Regions from separate parts of the Homo sapiens genome. Here region 2 is linked to region 1. Evidence: fine-mapped expression QTL. Tissue or cell type: nasal epithelium. Region 1 holds a variant in brackets; the other region holds the start of a gene. All regions are shown on one strand. Distances are between the middles of the regions.

Evidence for each region. PIP is the estimated chance that this variant, and not a neighbour inherited with it, causes the effect.
Region 2: TCHH starts here. The variant in region 1 is the best candidate, but not a certain one, in a credible set for the expression of TCHH in nasal epithelium (TOPMed, PIP 0.86).

The regions. Positions count from the first base shown.
Region 1 is chr1:152,140,049-152,142,740 of GRCh38, reverse strand. No RefSeq gene overlaps it. Among named protein-coding and RNA genes, the nearest start is that of RPTN, 18 kb to the left of the region's middle. The variant A/C (reference allele first, on the strand shown) is at 1,363.
Region 2 is chr1:152,114,111-152,116,802 of GRCh38, reverse strand. TCHH (trichohyalin) reads left to right here and starts at 1,359. Exons shown (of 3, transcript NM_007113.4): 1 at 1,359-1,412; 2 at 2,692.

The sequences.
Region 1 (2,692 bases):
AAATAAGAGAATATGCGATATGCCTGGCTTATTTCACTTAACATAGTGATCTCCAGTTCCATCCGTGTTGCTGCAAGTGACAGTGTCCAATTCTAAAAAAGGTAACTATGCTTTAATTAACTTGATAATGACAATCATTTCACAATACATATGTATATCAAGTCATCAGGTTGTACACCTTAAATTTATATAATTTTGTTTATCAATTATACTTCAGTGAAGGAGGAAAAATTAAATTTAAGATACAATTTAAAAGATTTTTTAAGTAGCATCATTCAAAGAGAGAGACAGAGCCCTGGACTGGGAGTAAGGAAACTTGAATTCTAGTTCTGGCACTGTTACCAATACCACATCCAATCTTGGGTCATGTGTGTCACCAGACTGTGCTCCAGTTTTCTCATCCTTAAAATGAAGAGCTGAAACAATGCAATCTATAATGTCTCTTTCAAGACTGTAATGCTATGATTTCATAACTAAATGTCTAGATCAATCAGCTAGCCTGGTTAAGTAAATATTCCAGAGGCTGAAAACACCCTGGATGCAAACTGGAGGAAACTATTCCATGCAGTTCTAGTGCCGCCTGCTGGTCAATGGATTCCTTAAGACATTCCCTCCTTAAGAGATAGATATCTAAGCAAAGTGACAAATACTGTTGCAAAAACAACAGGTCACAATTTGGCACTCTCTGCCCAGTGAACAAGTAATACTTTTGTTGTATAGTCTGGTCACCAGTTTCTGCTGAAACAGTTAATTTGTGTGAAAAGGGACACGTGCTGGTGGCTGCCTGATTGGGTGTCCCTGGCAACTGTTTTTGTTTGTCTTTTTGGTTTTTTATATCACTACCCCAAGCCCAATTATTGTAGGGCTTTGCTCTAGTTTTGCTTGCCACTGAATGAGACACATTCAGTTCATTCAGTAAATTCAATCCCAAATAGCTATTGAGCATTTTACTAGATTCCCTAACTGTGCAAACAGATGTAGTGTGCTACGAAGTTACTAGCAGAGGTTTTGAGTCCAGTAGAAATAGATTCCAATCTTGGCCCACCTACTTAACATCCTGTGTGACTTCAGCCTTGGTTTCCTGACTTTAAATTTTCAATGATATCTTCTTTATCAATTGCCTGTAAGGATTTGTGGGGTGCCTGGCATGGAACCTGGTGTGTTGTAGGCACTAGAGAACTGTGAAGACACAACTCATGCCCTGAAAGAGCTTGCAATTAGGCAGGGATAGAGGCAGGTGCTTAGCTATGCAATGTAACAATGATTCAATGTAACAATATTTGCTGATCACTTCATGTACACCCAGGGCTGTAACAGACGATGGTAAGACCCTAAGAAAGAAAATGCCATGGAGGTTCAAAA[A/C]AGGGGCAGATCACTTGAGGTGGGGCAAAACAAGTGTCTTCATTGTAGAGAAGGCATCTGTCCAGGATTTTAATAAGTGATAAGAATTTAAATAGACAGATTAATATTGTCCTTGTCCTTAAAATCTCACTTCATACTTCATCTCCATAAAGTCATTCCCTACTCCTACCTTAGTCATCAACTTTTCCACTCCACCTTTCTGTTCCTATTATTCTCAATCCTCTATTGTGGAATTCTAATTCATTCTGCTTATTTTAAAGTTCATAATGCACTAAAAGCAACAATTAAACAAATATCAAAACCCCTCTCTCACACCACTCACAAAAATTAACTTGAAATGGATAATAGACTTAAATGTAAGACTGAAACCATAGAACTCCTAGAAAAATGCAAATCAAAACTACCTAACATGTAGGCTAGCACCTACATGTCTCCTGTTTTCTTTGAGAACCAAGCAGAAAATGAATTTGCACCATTTTTATTAGCTAACTTATTACAAGACTTACTAAGGCAGTAGGAGCCTAACTTGAATTGAGCACTTACTGAGTACTAGTGTTAAAATACAATCTCTTAAAAAGTAACTTGCAGTGTGCCTTTCATACTGGATCATAATCTCCCTAAAGCCAAGGAAAGCATTGGTCTTATTCATTTTTAAGGCTCAGCAACGCAATGCCTGCTAATAACAGCAACATCTTACATATGTACCTTCGGGCTGCAGTTCAAAAGCCTTAGATTCATGCATTCATTCAACAAACGCTGATGACAACAATTTTCTGGACACTGTGCTGGGCACTAGGGGTACAGATGCCGGATGTCTTCTATCAAGGACTCACAATCTATGAGCAGGAAGACAATCACAATTCCATGTGATTAATCCAAAAGAATAAAACAATTATTTATAAATAGGAGTAAAAAAAATAACCACTACTAGCTTTCCCTGAGCACCGAAGTGTGTGGCAGGCACAATACTGAGTGCCAGGTATATCCTTATTCCATATAATCCTCTCATGAACTCTAGTAAGTTAGGTGCTTCTTATCATGTCCATTTAACAGATGAGAAAGCTGAGGCTTACAGAGATTAATAACTTACCCAAAGTCAAATATCTTCTAAGTGGAGAGAAAAATCATTCAAATCCATGTCTGACTTCAGGAGTCTATGTTTCTAAATCCCTTCTTTGCCTCCCAAACCAATGAAAAGAGCCTACATGATGGGTCCTGCAATCCGTGGAGTAGAGTCTTGTATGTAACTAAATCAAGCCAAGTCTTTGATAGAACAGCCACACATAAGACATGATGCACAAACATGAATCATGCCATCCCTGCCCTCAGA
Region 2 (2,692 bases), 26 kb after region 1:
AATTAGCATTGCTTATAATTGTCTTCCCATTCCCTGTCACTTCTACCTTCCTCTGTACCCCACATCTAGGATGGCAGCAAGTGAGGGGGCAAATAGAGTTCAACTCCATTATCATTTAGACCAATCTGCACATAAAGAAATAGCCATCAAGATTTAGATTCCAAATTTTCACTCATGCCATTGAAGGACGTTCAGTTGCCTCAAAATTCAGAAAACCAACACTTGCCTCTGTTGGACAAAGGAGGAGACAAAAGTGCAGAGAAGCCATTGAATCATTTAATAGTCTTCATAAATTATGAACCAAAGTTTCATATAGTCTGAAATGTAAGGAAGGAAGTCACTGACAACCATGGATAAAATCCAATTCCTTACAATAAAACAGCACTGAAATTTGCAAATGATCAACCAGATTGAGAAAGCCCTGATGGATATAATGGGCTAGAATGACCAATTACCTCAATGTACTTCCAGGAGAAGCAGACTCAAGTGTTTAGGTGTCATAATCATTAGTAACTTAGGCTGAGCAGGATGATTATATCTACAATAATACATTACACCAGCTCTTTTTCCCCAGGGGCATCAATATGCTAATGAGAAAACTAATGAACAAACTTCATTTAGGTTTAATGTCTCTAAGAATGAAATTTCACAGATTTCAAGTTTTCTTATGAACGGTTTAATAAAAATATATTTCCAAGGTACCCTTCCAAACTTTACTGAGGAGGCAGTCCCCAATCTGTAGGAAAACCATCATAAGACCCGGGAGACAAATGTAAAAATTTTTCCCACCTGCATTTTTAGAGAAGAAACTAACCAATTCTTTACAGCTCTCTCATTGCCCTAGAATTGAAGCAACTGCTTCTGGCAGGGCTTATGAGCAGCTCACCATGGACTGTCACATCCCATGGAGAAATTAATTGGTTTTCATCACTTTATTTCAAAGTTTCTGCTTAATCCCAAACTAGAGATTGTATCTTTTATAAAGCAAATGGCTTAGAGTTTACTCCTTTGTAATGAAGTAATAATCAATTAAGATTGTGAACATTTAATACCTTTGTTTTATTATTTAATTTACTTTTAACAATTTAAGAAAATTGGAGATTCTGCCAAATATTCTACCCTCCCATGTTAGGTGGGGCTGGTACCCTGACTGTCAGGAGGCAAGGTCTGTGAACCTCGTGCCAAATAGCTACGTGAGCAAATAGTGAGATAAACAAGCCATTTGTGGAGACAGAGGTGGAGCTGGGCTTGGTTAGGAATGAATCAGGCCATCCCACAGAGTGGGTGTCTCCTTCCCAAGTTGCTTTCCAGGGCACAATTAAAACCCCTATAAAAGGCCCAGCTCCCAGTTACCCAGTACACTTGCCTGTGGTGTCAGCAAGCACTGTCGACTTCTTCCTCTGGTGAAGTGGGTAAGTCCCATTCTGTGGGATCGTGGTCTTCTTTATGATTCTCCATTTTTATAGCTATTTCAGATGTTGGGATATGGGGGGAGGTTCCATGTGCCAGAAGGTATCAGTATTTTGCAGGGATAAATAAACTATCACTAACTCTATCCCATCTTCTTATGGTTGGAGCCATCACTTGAACTGAAGCATGACCCTTCTCCTTGGGCTCTGAACTCTATACTTCTGCACATCAAGGATGATCATGTGTGGCTCTGATAGGGTTCATCTTCCTAAAAACTGCTATCTCAAAAGTTTGCCAGCCTTCTGTTCTCTTTTACATTGGTTCTACCTAATATGGGCCATCTTCATACAGTCACAGCATTTAAGGTACTGGAGTTGAGAAGTACATAAAGAAGTCAGCTAGATGAACGACTACACTTATCCCACCAGCAAAGCCATTCCATGTATTCTTATAACATTGATCTACTGCTGGCTAATGTTTTATAAAAAGCCAAGATTCCAATGATGCATTTGGGTTTAACAAAACCAATATCATTCACAGTTTTCTGGATTCCGTTTGGTTTAGAAAGGACCTCTCAGAAGCTTTCAATACTTCAATATCCGAATATCTTACTATATCTGAGTTGAGGCAGGTAATATACAGTCTCTGTTTTCTGCATTTGTGTATCTGAATGTTACAATGCCATCTTTTGACTAGGAAGAAGTACTATTTAATCTTAGAATTGCTGACTTACAAATTATATTCTATAAGAGTTCCTAAATCCTTTATGGACTGTAATGTTGAGGAATCATTCATATTCCCTTTTCATTGTTCTATTTTCTACCAACTGTTTTGCTGACATGGCCTCTATCCACTTTAAGATACTCTCAAGTCTTCCTTCACCTTTTGGCTTTTACCTGTCCTCTTCGCTCAACTTTAAAGGAAGGTGTGTAGACATATATAAAATTTTAATTTCTGCACTCTTCTCTTAATTTTCTACTCTGAAATACGGTGGAGAGCTGGAAGAAAGACAGAAGAAAAGGGCATAGATAATCCACATTGGGTGGACAATCAAAAGCTGACAACAGGATAGTCTGAAGATGATTCCCTGGCTTGGAATTTCTCAGGATCGCTCTTTCTCTTTCTGATACAATATTCAAATATTAAAGTGCTCTGAAAGTCCAGGTTGAAATTACCGCTATAAATTCAAATTATTTAGGGATCTGCCTGAAATAGTGTGAATGAAGCCTTCCCAAAAGCAGAAACGGGATTTTGATTCTGGATCTTATTTTATTGTTCTAGG